Linked DNA regions of Homo sapiens. The protein of the gene in region 3 interacts with the protein of the main gene of each other region in a biochemical or structural test. Each region holds a gene or a part of one and is shown on either strand. Other genes may lie near its edges. The genes, in order: KPNA3, KPNA5, EPAS1 and KPNB1.

Region 1 (4,249 bases), on a different chromosome or scaffold from region 3:
AGCCTTCCATGTAGCACGACACCCTACTGGGAAATAGATAATTATATAAATAAAAATATTTCTTCTCTTTTGTTGTCTAGGTTGAGTACCTTGTACAGCAGAATGTAATACCACCGTTCTGTAATTTACTGTCAGTGAAAGATTCTCAAGTGGTTCAGGTGGTTCTAGATGGTCTAAAAAACATTCTGATAATGGCCGGTGATGAAGCAAGCACAATAGCTGAAATAATAGAGGAATGTGGAGGTAAGAGTGGATTGATGGAAGAAGAGTATTTGAGCACTGGAACTCTGAAACATAAGTTCTTTAAAGTCAACTTACTAGACAGAAAATTACTAGGATACGTTGTTTTTAAATGATCACAGTATGTTGCTTTTCTTTATTCACTATATTTGCATTCCAAGAGGATTTTCCAGAAGACAGTAGTCCATACTTTGCAAAATCAGGTTGTGAAAGTCACTGTATAGCCTTCTAGAGATTGACAACATAGCTTTTTTTTTTTTTTTTGGAGACAGAATCTTGCTCTGTCGCCCAGGCTGGAGTGCAGTGGCACAATCTCAGCTCATTGCAACCTCTGCCTCCCGAGTTCAAGCAATTCTCACACCTCAGCCTCCCAGGTAGCCGGGATTACAGGCGCACACCACCACACCCAGTGGATTTTTGTGTTTTTAATAGAGACGAGGTTTCACCATGTTGGCCAGGCTGGTCTCGAACTCCTGACCTCAAGTGATCCACCTGCCTCAGCGTCCCAAAGTGCTGGGATTACAGGCATGAGCCACTGCGCCTGGCCTGACATTGCATTTTAGGAAACACTAATACTTCTCTTGAAGTCACAGTGCATGACAGCAAATTTAAGAGCCCTTACAACACTACATAAATTTTAAAGCTTTATTTAATCCAGCATTTCTTAAACTTCTTAACAATGAAACACTTTTTTTGTGTGTTATTACCATGTAATTCTGTGGACCCCACTTTAGGAAATATTATTTCATATAGTTGGAAAAGGTTACTGACTTCTGAGTCACCTAGATATTTTGTTTCAATCTTGTAATGATTCTTAGGATTTCCACAACTACATCCTGAAGTTATTACTGTGGCAGTTACTTTGAAATTTTAATGAGAAATAATTGTGATTTGACATACTGTATTATTCTTTAATGACATGTGAAACATATGTTAAAATTCTGTTTTTAAATGTACATGTTCAATATGTACTAACATGTTTAAACCTTAAATTAGTTTATCATAATGTCATGTTTTAGATTTTACATTTCATTGACTACTTTATATGAATATTCTATTGTTTATTTATTTATTTATTTTAAGAGAAAACAAATGCAGTAGTACCGTAGAATATTCAGACTGGGAGGATTTCTTTCTTTCTATTTATTTATTTATTTATTTATTTATTTATTTATTTATTTATTTATTTTTTATTTATTTATTTTTTTTTTGAGACAGAGTTTCGCTCTTGTTGCCCAGGCTGGAGTGTAATGGCTCACCGCAACCTCCGTCTCCCGGGTTTAAGCAATTCTCCTACCTCAGCCTCCCTAGTAGCTGGGATTATAGGCATGCACCACCACGCCCGGCTAAATTTTTGTATTTTTAGTAGAGGCAGGGTTTCTCCGTGTTGGTCAGGCTGGTCTTAAACTCCCAACCTCGGGTGATCTGCCCGCCTCGGCTTCCCAAAGTGCTGGGATTACAGGCGTGAGCCACTGCACCCAGCCGGGAGGGTTTCTTGAGAAGAAATTATCCCACAGATTTTAAGGAGTCTTGTCCAAGGTGACAGAAGTAGGTTGTGATAGAAGCAAAGTTAAAATCCAGATCTTCTTACTATTAAGATAATTAAAAATTGTAGTCAGGTTCATAACACAGTAAGTTTGAGCAACTTAGAGAATTACTACTCTTCAGCTTTTTATCAATATAGTTACTTTTGTCTATAGGAGTAATAGGATACATATTAATATTTTATAATTGTATAAAGCACTTTGGCAACGATTTCCCCCATTCTTTTGGTTTATTAGTATATAAGAAAAAATTGCAACTATTTTAAAATAACCTTCAAAAAGACATTTCAAGGAAGAATATTAAGGTGTGAAATTGATAAACATGTATATGATGTGTGGAGTAAATATATTGGAAATATAAATGAAGGCATTCTATGATATCTGTTCTGGAAATATTTTCTCCCAGGTTCATTGTGGCTATAGGACATAAGACCTCTATTCATTTTTTAAAGAAAGTTTTTCAAAATTTAAATCTTTATATCTTTTATACCAATTATAAGGTTCTAAAAACTCATTTTGTGGTTATATAAAGGTAATAACATTTGGAAAACAAAGAGAAAGATACAAATTACTTTATGAGGCAGTAAGATTAATAAGATTGGCCGGGTGCAGTGGCTCACTCCTGTAATCCCAGCACTTTGGGAGGCCAAGGCGGGCGAATCACGAGGTCAGGAGTTCGAGACCAGCCTGGCCAACATGGTGAAACCCCGTCTCTACTAAAAACACAAAAAATTAGCTGGGCATAGTGGTGGGCACCTGTAATCCCAGCTACTTGGGAGGCTGAGGCAGGAGACACTTGAACCCAGGAGGTGGAGGTTGCAGTGAGCCGAGACGTGCCACTGCACTCCAGCCCTGGCTACAGAGTGAGACTCCGTCTCAAAAAAAAAAAAAAAAAAGAAAGAAAGAAAAAATGCCCAGGCGCAGTGGCTCACGCCTGTAATCCCAGCACTTTGGGAGGCCGAGGTGGGCAGATCACGAGGTCAGGAGATCAAGATCATCCTGGCTAACATAGTGAAACCCCGTCTCTGCTAAAAATAGAAAAACTTAGCCGGGTGTGGTGGCGGGCGCCTGTAGTCCCAGCTACTTGGGAGGCTTAGGCGGGAGAATGGCATGAACCCAGGAGGCGGAGCTTGCAGTGAGCCGAGATCACACCTCTGCACTCTGCACTCCAGCCTGGGTGACAGAGCGAGACTCCGTCTCAAAAAAAAAATAGATTAGTAAATTTATATTAAAGCACTGTGGGGGAGTTGGTTCTAGTACTGTCACAAACTTGCCATATAACTTGAAATAAGTCTCTTTACATATTTATGCCACAGCTTCCCTCTGTCAAATGGATTGTTTGGGTGTTTTTTTAGACTGTCTGCCTCAGGGATCCGGGTACCTCAAGGGCTTCTAAGAAGGAAAAAATTAGTGGGATTCTGGTCCTCCAACTAGAAGCAGCCCCGTGTTTTGTCTGTTTTTTAGACAAACCACTATCTTAGATGGGGGAGCAGTGTGTTCTGAGTTCCTTAGGATTTCTCCATGATTAAAATGAGTGTGGTTTTGATTAGTATCTCCTTATCAATTAACCAGTTATTTTGATTATTTTATTTTTACCAGGTTTGGAGAAAATTGAAGTTTTACAGCAACATGAAAATGAAGACATATATAAATTAGCATTTGAAATCATAGATCAGTATTTCTCTGGTGATGATGTAAGTAGATATTAAAATAGCGTGTATCTTCATGTAAATGAAAACCTATACATGATGTAAATTTACTAAGAGTTTTCCTTTTATTATTAGGATGACATAAGTTTGTACTGTATTTCTATTAGACATTCCATCAGTCACTTTCTCTTAAATACTTTGAAACTTCATTATAAGGTAAAGTTGTAAAAACAGTTCTTGTTTCATTTCTAATCTATTAACTAGGAAGAAATAGTAATTATATAAGTGATATATGTTCAGATAGGTTAAATAAATCTAGGTCCCAGATACAGAAACTTAACAATGCAGTTTCGAAACGTGTTAAATTTTAAATTGTTAAATTTCTTAATAAAATTATTGATTTACTCGAATATTTTTAGTTGGTTAAAGCATTCACATAGAATTATTTGCTAAGAGGTAAAAAGTCAATTCCACTTACATCATAATGTATAGTATCATAACCTAATAAGGATTTTTTTCTTGTTTTTTACAGATTGATGAAGATCCCTGCCTCATTCCTGAAGCAACACAAGGAGGTACCTACAATTTTGATCCAACAGCCAACCTTCAAACAAAAGAATTTAATTTTTAAATTCAGTTGAGTGCAGCATCTTTCCCACATTCAATATGAAGCACCACCAGATGGCTACCAAATGATAAGAACAACAGCAACAAAAGGCTCCAAAACACACATGCCTCTTTGTTTTGATGCTTCTAAAGCAAGCCATGTCTCAGTCACTTTGCAGTTGCCAAAAGTCACTATCACATGGACTGTAA
Region 2 (4,318 bases), on a different chromosome or scaffold from region 3:
CTTACATTTATTGAGTAGCCCAAAGGAGTCAATTAGAAAAGAAGCCTGCTGGACTGTTTCTAACATCACTGCTGGAAATAGAGCTCAGATTCAGGTAACTACCCTTCAGATCTGAGAGTAGAACAGCAAGGTCTAAGAAGCCAGTTTGGACAAAAGTTAACACTTTTACTAAAAAAGATTCCTTTTTAAAAAGATACCGAAAAAGTATTTTAAAGAACATGGGCTTTCCTCCTCTAAAATAATAACATTTACTTGTAGTATTCTAGTGAAGAACATCAAGTGTGTGTGTGTGTGTGTGTGTCTAGCACAGTGCCTGACACATAATGGTTTGTCTTTAGAAAGATATTTTTTTGCATTAGTTTTAAATAAGTTATGCAATAATCTTCCTCTCAAAGCTTTTAATGATTTATTAGGGTTCTATCAAGCTTCTTGTGTCAGTGATTACTTATCCATTTTGATCAGTCACATGGCTTGTGCTTTATCATCTCTAAAATTTATATTTTGCTATTCTCCAGTCTTTAAAAAGCTAATTTCCTATGTAAAAAGAAAAATATTTGAAAAGTTTGCTGACAGAATAGAAATTAAAAATTTATTTTAATGTCAAGGTTCCAAAAACCTTGACATTTTGAAGCCATTGAGTTTCAAGATTTTTTTTACTGGTAATATTTTAGAAACAGTATTTGTACTGATTATATATTTTTCCCCCTCTCAGGCTGTTATAGATGCAAATATTTTTCCTGTTTTGATTGAGATTCTTCAGAAAGCAGAGTTTCGTACCAGAAAAGAAGCAGCTTGGGCTATAACTAATGCAACATCAGGAGGTACTCCAGAGCAAATAAGGTATGATATAAACTTCTTAATTGTTTTTTACATGTAAATGAGACAAAAGTTGAAATAAAACATATTTTAATTTACTGATGGAACTAAAATATTATTTCTAAGTCAGTTTGATAATATGAAATGACAGCATGTATTATATCAGTTACTCATTCACAATTTTTTTTTCCCCATTTAACGTGTAATTAACATCATTCTCCTTGATAGGCTGCTTAAGAAAAATCAGAGATTAAAAAATCCAAACGGGAACGGTCTATGTTAATTTGCAGAGTACACTGTCATGGGCATTAAATATTTTTTAATCACAAAAATATAGCTTTATTATATAGAAATGGCTAATAAATTTGAATATCCACTTACTTTAAATAAAATTGAAATAGACATTGTTTATATGGTGATGTTCTGGTCCTCATTGATTGTTAGCCTTGCCTATGGATAGTATCTTTTATTTTTCTATACTAGTTACCTTTTTTTTATATTAGCTTTTTGAGTCTAGGCTTTTTAAATTTATTTATTCTGCTGACAATGTAAATAATAGGTGCATGGGCTTTTAAGTCAGCCTGATTTCAAATCCTGCTCCTTCAGTAAAAGTTGTGTGGTCTTGACAAAGTCATTTAACCCCTCTAATCTAGTTTCTTCATTTTAAAAAATGAGTTCCAGTAATGAATAGTTATGGCAGTGTAAGTCAGCCTTCCATATCCTTGGGTTTTGCATCTGTGGATTCAACCACCTGCAGGTCAAAAATATTAAAAAAGAAAAAGACAGTAAAAAATGCCAGTACAACACTACAAAATAATGCAAATTTAAAAACACAATACAACAATTAGTAACATCATAGCAATTACATTGTTTTAGGTATTATAAGTAATCTAAAGATAATTTCAAATACTTGGAAAGATATGCATAGGTTGTATGCAAATACTATGCCATTTTATATAAAGGAATTGAGCATCTGTGGATTTTGGTATTGAGAGGAAGGGTGTCTTGGAACCAATCTCCGATGAAACCGAGGGACTGTATCTTGATAGTTAAGTGAAATTTATGTCTTTGAAGTGTCAGCACAGTGCCTAAACATATTATTAATAACTAATAGATAATTAAGAATAGCTACTGTTATTATTTGTAATCATCATAATTTTTATTATCAGTATTGATTCCTGAATCTTTTATCATGTACTTTCACTCTTTTTTATCTCCCATAGCAAAGTTTCACTTACACCTCTACTAAAAGCTTCTACAGAATCGTCTTGTTCGGAGGATCCCTCCATGAAACTAGACTTCTTAGAAAATATTTTCTAATGCATATTTGATTTATTTTTCAATTTATAAAACAAGTCAAACTACAGTGCTATTTTATAAATCACATAATTTTGAAATCTACCTATTGTGAAATTGTCGTCTTTTATTGCCTTCATTTGTAGTATTATCTTGCTCTCTCAAATTTGTATAGCTGTATATTGCTAGCATCTGTCTCTGCCTTTTATTTTCTATTCTATCTCTTTGCTTTCATCAGTATTTCCACTTTGTGTCATGGATACAAGCAGTAATAAATGAAGACCCTTCCTTTGTTCTATTTTGTATTTTTTTAATGTTGATGTTACTTTTATTTTATTTGGGCTGCAAGTTTGTTCACCTGCAAATAGTTGTATTTTTTCAATTAATTTTTGTGGTTATATCTATTCTGTATATTATTGCTTTAATTTATTAGTATGGATTAAGTATCCAAACTGAGATAATTATTTTTCTAACCACTTTTATCATTTCATTAAGTTTGCATATTTGGGAAAAGACCTCTTGATCTCAGATTAAGTTATGCATCCATACCACTAGTTGAGTGCCTACTATTGCCAGTTATTGTGCTAAGTAAGTCATTTCAGTTATTGAGCACCAGCAATGTGTCTGGTACTTTCATGTATTTTATCTCCTGTAATCTCTTAACTATGAGGCAGTTATTCATTCAACAGATATTTTTGACCAATTACAGTACAGTATAGGGCAAATGAGTGCTCTGGTGAAGGTATATACATCTTTTTTTTTTAAGAGGGACAGAAACTTTTATTAAATGTCTATTGTGTTCTTACAACTACTCTCTGAAGTTGGTACTATTATTATTCCCATTTTTAAGATGGGGAAACTGAGACACAGAGTAATTGCTCAAGGTCACACAACTAATAAGGGGTGGAATTGGGACTTGAAGGCACACAGCCTGGCTTCATAGTATGTTTTTAACCTTTGTACTTAATATGGACTTTTTGCCAAGTGAACAAATCAGTTACTTCATTTACATTATAGAGTACAGAAAACCAGCCAATAACTAGAAAAGGACATGCATTCAGAAATTAAAGAATTTTTTTGTGAATATTATTTATGAACATTATTCACAAGAGAGCCTGTTTTGTTCCTACAGGCCTTCTATCCTTCTGAAACACAGTATATGTTTCAGAACATTAGCTGTGATTGTTTTTATGGGAAATTTTCTCAAGTTTAATTTAGATGTCTCTTCTTTCTTTCCATTTCTGTCTACCCCCATATGACCTCCGTGTGTGTGTGTGTGTGTGTGTGTGTGTGTGTGTGTGTGTGTCTGTGTGTAGGCTTGCCTTTAAAAAAAAAAAAAAACAACCTTTCGAACCTACGTTTAATGCTCAGATGAGCACCATGAAAAACAGGCCGAAGTACCAGTTTGTGTCTGTATTTTATAGTCTTTGCAAGACCATTTATTGCTAATTATGTTAAATTAGAGAATAGGTGAGTAAAGAAAATTTTAAGTTTCCTATGTGAGAATTTAAATGTGTGTAATGTTTGCATTTGTATAGGAATACTTTTTCTTAATTGCTTATGTAACATTTCACTATGAAAAATATTTTTGTGTCATTGTTACAAACAGTACTTAAGTCTTTTTAAATCTTTTTTTCCCTGTTTCTTCTCTTTTATATTAATCTGAAGGTATTTGGTAGCTTTAGGCTGCATTAAACCACTTTGTGATCTTTTGACTGTTATGGACTCCAAAATAGTCCAAGTGGCTTTAAATGGACTTGAAAATATTTTACGTCTTGGAGAACAAGAATCTAAGCAGAATGGAATAGGCATTAATCCATACTGTGCTCTCATTGAAGAAGCATATGGTAAGCAATCAGTTAAAAATTTGCAATTATAGTCAGTTCTTATATCTGTCATACTTTCCCCTTCCAGTTCCCTACAATTTTTTTGTTGTAAAAGCAGTATGTATTTTTTTAAGTTTTAAAATGTCACCCGTAATTTTATTACCCTAACAATTTATTTTTATTATTTACCTTTTTTTAACATTGTCTGTATGCACAAATACTTTACATTGACTTAATTGTATTGTATGTATAGTTTTATGTTCTACTTTTTAACATTTTGGAGAAATTTTACATTTCTACATAATTTTTATTATAATGGCCACATAATGTTATGTATATACTATATATATATAAAAATATGTAATTTTTTTTTTTTTTTT
Region 3 (4,318 bases):
GAGGACACCCCCCTGAGGGTCGATTCTCCACCATGGGTGGTGAGAGTCTGAGATGAGAGGGAGGGGAGAGGTGAGGGATCTGCTCCGAGGCCACTTGGACACTGTCAAAGAGAAGGGGCAGATTCCTACCAGGGTCTGGAAGGACAGATGGCTTGTTCAGGCAGAGGGCCAAGTTGGAGTAATGTTGGGAAGGATCATTCCAAAAACACAGAGAACATATTGAGGCCTGGGATTAAGCCCTCAAACCCACGACTTCATTAAAGTGTCTGCCTGTCCCTGGGGATGTAAGTCACTGGGGACCCCGGCAGGGTTTTCAGCCCTCGGCTGCTCCAATCCTGGAAACACCCTTGAAGCCCCATGCTCCCCAGTTCGCAACCCGCTGCCACCCTCTCCTGGCCTTGCTGTGGCTGCCGGAAGAGTGGTGCTCACCCTGGACTGTGTCAGCCCCTTTTAGATGGGTTCTACAGCGGCCACGTGAGGATTGCAGCTAAAGAGAATCTGAAACGCAGCGGGCCCTTGGCCAGTAGGTCTCGCGGCTTGTTTTGTGGCAGTACTGAGGCAAATAGCTCAATAGCCCAATTCTCCTCTCCCTCTCATACCTTCCTTGTCTACCCTTCCGGATCTGTTCCTCAGGGAAGAGTGGCTCCTAATATATTTAGTCTCTGAAAATTAAATGTCCCAGGAGACTGTTCCGTTTAAAGGGAGTCTCTACGTTGACTCATAGCCAGAGTCAAAGACCCATGTGTTCCAGCTGAGCCCCAGGGTGTTGGGGGGGCCTAGCCCCAGGCATGCCTTCCAGACCCTCTTAGGGCCTTCTCTGCGGTTTTTGGGCCTCCTCTGCCTTGGGGTGAGCCCGATGGTTGTGGGTGTTCACCTCCCAGGCCCTTGTCTCCACAGGGAATCAGAACTTCGAGGAGTCCTCAGCCTATGGCAAGGCCATCCTGCCCCCGAGCCAGCCATGGGCCACGGAGTTGAGGAGCCACAGCACCCAGAGCGAGGCTGGGAGCCTGCCTGCCTTCACCGTGCCCCAGGCAGCTGCCCCGGGCAGCACCACCCCCAGTGCCACCAGCAGCAGCAGCAGCTGCTCCACGGTGAGCAGCCCTCTTATGGCGAGGACACAGAGAGGGCTCCGTATGTATGACTGCTGCCAGATGGCTGAAGGGACATTTGGGACAGGTACTGTCCTTCTCAGGTTATCACAGAGCCCCCTAGAGTGGCCGTGACACTTACCTACCAGGTATCAGAGCTGTTTTCTTCCTTTTAGTGTTCATCCCCCAACTCCATTGAAATAAGCTCCTTGAAGGGCTTTGAGCCCCCAGCTCAGTCCCCATACAGGGCAGTAACATCCCGTATGTGGCACAGAGCTGCACAGTTTGCACAGCCCTGCTGGCCACAGCCTGTATCCTGTTTGGTCCTCAAGACAGGACAACCTGTGAAGCGACAGTAGCCTCATTTTATGATGAGGAGACTGGAATTTAGAGAGGTTGATGAATTGACCTAATTCATACAGCTTGTTAATTAGCAGCCCCTCTACAAATAGTTGTGTGGTGGAATGGAATTGAACCTTTGGGTCCAGGAAGGTATTTCTTCTTCCATGCTGGACTTCTGGGGAGACCAGTGCCATATCTTTGACTCTGTCCCCCTCCTTCCTGGCCCCTAGCCCAATAGCCCTGAAGACTATTACACATCTTTGGATAACGACCTGAAGATTGAAGTGATTGAGAAGCTCTTCGCCATGGACACAGAGGCCAAGGACCAATGCAGTACCCAGGTAGATGGCTGTGGAGATCAGGCTAGGGTGTGTGCCTGCTGTCTGGTGGACAGCAAAGGCTCACATCCATTCTTGTAGCCTCATCCCTTTGTTGTAAAGAGCAGTGGAGACGTTTGGCCAAGGCCCAGGTCCCCTAAAGAGGTAGGGGTACAGGGTAATGGAGCCTGTGGTCACCCCCTCCTCCCACTGTCAAATCCAGCTCTTCCAGCATATGTGTCTCCTACTTAGATAGCTTTCTTAGCACACATGAAAACCGAAATGATACCACTGCACCTTTCTTTAAACAGGCCCTACATTTAACAAGCATAGCCAGATGTATAAAACATGTATAAACATAGGGGACAATTAATCCCTTTATAAACACATTCATCTTGTGATTTTAAAAAAATAATCATTTTTATATGAAATGCACTTTAAAATAAATAACATCTGTTTGACAATTTTTCATTTACATAAAACTTTTCAGGAACACATTTATTACATAAGGCCAATGTTCTTGCAAAAACTATGTAAACAAGGATAAGGTAGAGGGAGGGGTACGTGTTTTACAAAACCCCAGGGAAAACCATTAATCCCCCATTTGTCTTAGTCTTGAGTTCAACCAGATTTCTGCCTTGCCACTTAGTTTGTTTCTTGATCCTACTTGGCACAAATCCCAGCTACTCTGCAAAACATGCCCAATTTTAGCTTTTCTATCACCCTCCCTCCTCAGCACTCCTGTAGTATATATCATGTGGCACTTAATCACAGCTATCTGCTTCTGCTCCTTAAAGATTGCTTAGTATTGCAGTCATTAGTCAGCTGACACCCACTGAGGGTGTCAGTCTCTGAAGTTAGAAACTGTTTTCCGCATCTGCTTGTATTCCCCTGCTTGTATCATGCGTCCGTCATGATACTGCCACCCTAAGGGATGATCTGAGTATCTGCTGATTGGAACCAAAGTCTCTGTCCCTGGGGTCTGGCTGTTAGGCTGTTACTCTGCGAGAGTCCACAGATGGACCTGGGCACTTACTGCTTGCTTAGGCCCGTGCCAGCTTACAGGAGGGAGAAGAGGACAAAAAAAAGCCACAGTGTGCACCACAGGCCTAAGCATTGTAGGACAAGGATAACCACCACAGGCTGGAGTAGGCAGGGCTGACTCTGTGGAAGAGGGGCTGCCTCGGCTTCAAGAGAGAAGGCGGGCTCCGGACAGGTGGGATGGGGAGAGGAGAACATTTCTCAATGTGCAGGGTGAAGAGGGGATAAACATGGGGGAAGGCTGGTACATGATACAAGGTCGTGTACATGACACAGCCAAGTCTGAGGTTTTCCTGATAGGCCCTCGGGAGCCAGTGGAGGCGTTTGAGCAGCACTGTGAAACAGTGCTTGAGATGAATGGCTCTGCAGGAGCTGAGTTGGAATAGTGTTTGTGAGGTCGTACCAACCCCCTTGCCTCTTTGCCGGTGCTGTCTCCCCTCAGACGGATTTCAATGAGCTGGACTTGGAGACACTGGCACCCTATATCCCCATGGACGGGGAAGACTTCCAGCTAAGCCCCATCTGCCCCGAGGAGCGGCTCTTGGCGGAGAACCCACAGTCCACCCCCCAGCACTGCTTCAGTGCCATGACAAACATCTTCCAGCCACTGGCCCCTGTAGCCCCGCACAGTCCCTTCCTCCTGGACAAGTTTCAGCAGCAGCTGGAGAGCAAGAAGACAGAGCCCGAGCACCGGCCCATGTCCTCCATCTTCTTTGATGCCGGAAGCAAAGCATCCCTGCCACCGTGCTGTGGCCAGGCCAGCACCCCTCTCTCTTCCATGGGGGGCAGATCCAATACCCAGTGGCCCCCAGATCCACCATTACATTTTGGGCCCACAAAGTGGGCCGTCGGGGATCAGCGCACAGAGTTCTTGGGAGCAGCGCCGTTGGGGCCCCCTGTCTCTCCACCCCATGTCTCCACCTTCAAGACAAGGTAAGTGGCAGATACTCAGCTGTACCAGCAGGGCCGAACCGAGAGGCACCCACTAGTAAGATAGCTGGACCCCCAGGGAGGCCCCTGCCCCTCTCCCCAGCCATCTGATACCCCATTTAGCCCTTCTCTGAGCTCAGACTTTGGGGAATCACCTCAAGCCATGTGAGGCCTAGTGTAGGATGGGTTTTTATCTGGGCTGCCACTGAGGGCAGGCAAAGAAGTGGCTTGTTGAGAGCCCTGTACCTCAGTGTCTCCCTTCGGACCACCACCAGAGTGCCTTTCGTATCTCGGTTCATCATCTGAGCCACACAGAAAATTGAGTGATGATTTTCCCTGGTTGAAAACAGCAAAAAGATACCCCTGCCTCCCCTTGCCTTTTGGCTGCCCCCGGGTCCTCGCCACTGCAGCCTCTCCCAGCTGTGCCTAGGCTCCAGAAATGCCTTCCCATCTCCCCAGCATGCTCATTTCACCAGCTGCGAGCTCACTGGGCTAAGGCACAGGGGTTGGTACATGACCTGCCACTCCCAGGGGCCGCTGGTACTTGCCCTTTATAGAGCAGCCAAACTAGTTTTCAGTGGGAGCAAAAGGCAGAGGAGA
Region 4 (4,318 bases), on a different chromosome or scaffold from region 3:
TTTACAAATTTATCTTCCCTTAACAGCCCACTTTCCTTGTGGAACTGTCCAGAGTGCTGGCAAATCCAGGAAACAGTCAGGTTGCCAGAGTTGCAGCTGGTCTACAAATCAAGAACTCTTTGACATCTAAAGATCCAGATATCAAGGCACAATATCAGCAGAGGTGGCTTGCTATTGATGCTAATGCTCGACGAGAAGTCAAGAACTATGTGAGTAACGCTTATCTGTTTGGTTATATTGCCCAGAGAACAAGAAATCGCTTTCTCAGATCTTTTGCTATTTGCATGGGATAGAGCTAACAGTGTGATAGGTTTCTGGGACCTCAACTTTACCTAAAGATAAAAATTGTCTTTGTCTTAAATCTTTCTCAACACAGCTTGTCCATTCCCATTGATGGATTGGAATTCTTTTTAGATGACTGAGGTAGGCTGCAGCAGTTTGGGAAACTTTAATTACGTGCCATAATTGGTAAAATCTGTTTGGCAAATGGGAGTAGTGTACAAATTGGTGCTACATTTGTATAAAAATTAGGGAATTTGTTAATAGGTATTTCCAAGCTCTCCAGAAATTCCGATTCGGTACTTCTGGAGTACAGCTCAGGGAATTTTTTTTTTTTTTTTTTTTTGGAGACAGTCTTGCTCTGTTGCCCAGGCTGGAGTGCAATGGCATGATCTCGGCTCACTGCAGCCTCCGCCTCCCAAGTAGCTGGGATTACAGGCACCCACCACCATGCCCAGCTAATTTTTGTACTTGAAGTAGAGACGGGGTTTCACCATGTTGGCCAGGCTGGTCTTGAACTCCTGACCTCAGGTGATCTGCCTGCCTTGGCTTCCCAAAGTGCTGGGATTACAGGAGTGAGCCACCTCGCCTGGCTGTTGTTGTTTTTAAATTAAGTTCTTTAGTGATCTGTCTTACATGGGTAAGGCACAAAGAGGAGTGAGTTAAATATCTGTGCAGTCATCATTTTGTCCTTGGTATTTGAGTGGAAACTAGTGGGGAATTCCTACATATGTACTTGTGCAGGACATGGTTATGCACATCATACTTGCTATTTCCTGGTTCTAGATATCAGCATTAGGTAAAGTAGTGCCCTGTAAGGCAGTAACTTCTGTATCTGGTTGTGTACCTCCTTCTGTCACCAATCTTGCATACCCATGATAAGGAGCCGGGTTATTAAATCCAACTTGGTTTCAAATCGTTTTGGAGCATGTAGAGCTGTTTCTATTCATGTTGGTTCTGCTTGTGTAATAACAACATTTTAATTCCTTCTCCCTCAGCTAAGTGACATAAATGGAAGTATATTCTATCACTGGAAATCTCGATACTGATAGTGCCCATTCAGTTTCTCATCTTCCTTAATTTACACACTAGTAAATGGGATAAGATGTAATTGGAATTGTAATTGGCTTATTTTTTGGCACATCACTCTTAACACCAACCCTTTAAAAAAAAATTAGACAATAATGGCTGGGCGCAGTGGCTCATGCCTGTCATCCCAGCACTTTGAGAGGCCGAGGTGGGTGGATCACCTGAGGTCAGGAGTTCGAGACCAGCCTGGCCAACATGGCGAAACCCTGTCTCTACTAAAAATACAAAAATTAGCTGGCTGTGGCGGTGGATACCTGTAGTCTCAGCTACTCTGGAGGCTTAGGCAGGAGAATTGCTTGAACCTGGGAGGCGGAGATTGTGGTGAGCCAAGATTGCGCATTGCACTCCAGCCTGGGTGACAGAGTGACACTCCATTTCTTAAAAAAAAAAAAAAAAAAAAAATTAGATAATTTGTATAGGCATGGTTAAGCCCTCGGGCATGAGAAAAAAGCTAACAGTACCTTGGCCTTTTTCCCTTTCATAGCACAACGATAACTAATACTAAGTTTCACTGTTGGTGATCTTTTTTGAAATCTGGATATTGGGGCACAATTGGGAGCTAGTTTCTCTTTTCTGATAATTGAATATTACTATTAAGGTTACCTCTAGTTTAAACAGAAAACTTTTAGTACTCAGGAGGTGGACATCCGTAGTTTCTAAATCACCTCAAGTAATATGGAGTCTTCAGAAAGCAATCTAAAGGAAAAAGGTAAAGGTAGAATGGGATTCAGTGCACTCCACATATGTACTAGGAGACTATGTAGTGTGGTGTGAAGGCACCCTGGACTTGGGTTAATAATACCCATTCAGCCCCTGATATTTTGGACAATTCACCTTGTTTTTCCCCCTCATTCCCTCGTGTCTTTGACATACCGTTTTTGTCCATTCTAGCTCTGCTAGTCCTCGAGAGCAAAGCCTTTCATTTAACATCAATCAGAACTGTTTGTAGTTGGGTAGAGCTGATGGGGGTGGGGGCCAGGGATGATGATATACCGTATAAGAAGGAAAGGGGGAGTTCATTATTGGTGCTAGCTGCAAAGCAGGATACTAAGTGATCCGACCCAGTCAGCAGAGCTGGCCTGAATATCTGGCAGCTATTCTTTGTCCCGTGTTCATGCCAGAACAGTTAACTGTTTGCCTTTGAGTGGACTACTGATTCTTAGTGAGTTCATTGACTGAATTAGCTGATCACGGTAATAATTAGCTCTAGGTCAATTGTGGCTTCATCTTTTATCATACCTGTGCCTTTACTCTTTACATAAATGGTGGCGTGGTTACCATGTCAAGCGAGACATGTTTAATGACAAGTGGATCTTGTTTTGACATCTGGCTAGATTTTGGTATCTGTCAGTGATAGAACAGTTCTTTGATTCTTGGGCAAACAGAACAAATCCTTTCAGATTGGAAGTTATATAAAGATTAGTTCATAGGTGTTATTAACATCAGCAACGTTGTTTTTGTATTTAGTGATGTTGTTACTTGACCAAGGCCTTTCTATGTAAGTCACCCCGAATGCTGAGTTGTTAGTGATTAGAAGGAAAAAGTTTTGTTTCAGCCCACGTCTCATGAGTAAGATCTCCTTGGATCAGATTAGACAGTGATCTACTGTGAATAAGACCCACCTGAATGCCCCAGAACTAGCTTCATTCTAGTGTCCATGTCTGTCTACAAAACGAGGGTGTGAACATCCTTTCCTTATAACAGCAACAATGAGCCTGGAAGATGAGTTTTGTCCCCATCTCTCTCCTTTGCCATTTACTGCTACCTCCTCTTGTAACTTCTGGTTTCCCACCTCGTGTTGAAGGTTGAAGTGAGGTGGGATGACTGGTTTTGTTTCTAGGTTCTAGGGCAGTGTTGATTATGCTGATGTTGCTACTGAGGCTGGTTTTTTCTGACAGCCTTTCCTACTTCTCCGTATTATAGATAAGAATTCTGAGGCCAGGCACAGTGGCTCACGCCTGTCATCCCAGTACTTTGGTAGGCCGAGGTGGGTGGATCACCTGAGGTCAGGAGTTTGAGACTGTCCTGGCCAACATGGTGAAACCCCATCTCTACTAAAAATACAAAAACTAGCCGGGCATGGTGGCAGGCACCTGTAATCCCAGCTACTTGCTGGGGGGAGCTAAGGCAGGAGAATCGCTTGAACCCAGAAGGCGGAGGTTGCAGTGAGCCGAGATCGCGCCATCATGCTCCAGCCTGGGGGACACGAGCGAGACTTTGTCTCAAAAAAAAAAAGAATTCTGAGACAGCTGCCTGGGCACAGTGGCTCACACCTGTAATCCTAGCACTTTGGGAGGCCAGGAATTTGAGACCAGCCTGGGCAACATAGGGAGACCCCCATCTCTACTAAAAACCCAAAAAAGTTAGCTGGGTGTGATGGCATGTGCCTGTAGTCTAAGCTACTCAGGGAGGCCTGGGAGGTCAAGGCTGCAGTATCGTTGTGCCATTGCACTATCGTTTTGCTACTACACTCCACCCTGGACAACTGACTGAGGCCTTGTATTTTCCTTTTTTTTTTTTTGAGCCTGGGCAATATGGTGATGCCCTGTCTCAACAAAAGATAGCTGGGCATGTCAGCATATCCACCCCTGTAGTTCAGTTACTCAGGAGCCTGAGGCGGGAGGATAGATTGCACCGTAGAGATTGAGGCTACAGTGAGCTGTGATCGTGCCACTGCACTCCAGTCCGGGCAACATAGTGAGACCCTGTCTTAAGAAAGAAAGAAAAAAAAGAATTCAGAGACACTAATATAAGTATGGTGGTGGGCAAAATGTGGTCAAATAGTGTTAGAAATTTGTATCTTTTGTCTTTTTTTTTGGTGCAGGTTTTGCAGACATTGGGTACAGAAACTTACCGGCCTAGTTCTGCCTCACAGTGTGTGGCTGGTATTGCTTGTGCAGAGATCCCAGTAAACCAGTGGCCAGAACTCATTCCTCAGCTGGTGGCCAAT

Evidence for each region.
Region 1: the proteins of EPAS1 (region 3) and KPNA3 form a complex in vitro, tested with the Homo sapiens proteins (one study listed by BioGRID).
Region 2: the proteins of EPAS1 (region 3) and KPNA5 form a complex in vitro, tested with the Homo sapiens proteins (one study listed by BioGRID).
Region 4: the proteins of EPAS1 (region 3) and KPNB1 form a complex in vitro, tested with the Homo sapiens proteins (one study listed by BioGRID).

The regions. Positions count from the first base shown.
Region 1 is NC_000013.11:49,701,615-49,705,863, reverse strand, and holds part of KPNA3 (importin subunit alpha-4), read left to right. Parts: intron 1-80; coding exon 81-243; intron 244-3,383; coding exon 3,384-3,478; intron 3,479-3,965; coding exon 3,966-4,064; 3' UTR 4,065-4,249. UniProt on the Homo sapiens protein: Functions in nuclear protein import as an adapter protein for nuclear receptor KPNB1. Binds specifically and directly to substrates containing either a simple or bipartite NLS motif.
Region 2 is NC_000006.12:116,725,783-116,730,100, forward strand, and holds part of KPNA5 (importin subunit alpha-6), read left to right. Parts: coding exon 1-94; intron 95-712; coding exon 713-840; intron 841-3,780; coding exon 3,781-3,959; intron 3,960-4,318. UniProt on the Homo sapiens protein: Functions in nuclear protein import as an adapter protein for nuclear receptor KPNB1. Binds specifically and directly to substrates containing either a simple or bipartite NLS motif.
Region 3 is NC_000002.12:46,376,997-46,381,314, forward strand, and holds part of EPAS1 (endothelial PAS domain-containing protein 1), read left to right. Parts: intron 1-897; coding exon 898-1,091; intron 1,092-1,660; coding exon 1,661-1,771; intron 1,772-3,230; coding exon 3,231-3,721; intron 3,722-4,318.
Region 4 is NC_000017.11:47,652,668-47,656,985, forward strand, and holds part of KPNB1 (importin subunit beta-1), read left to right. Parts: intron 1-26; coding exon 27-209; intron 210-4,192; coding exon 4,193-4,318.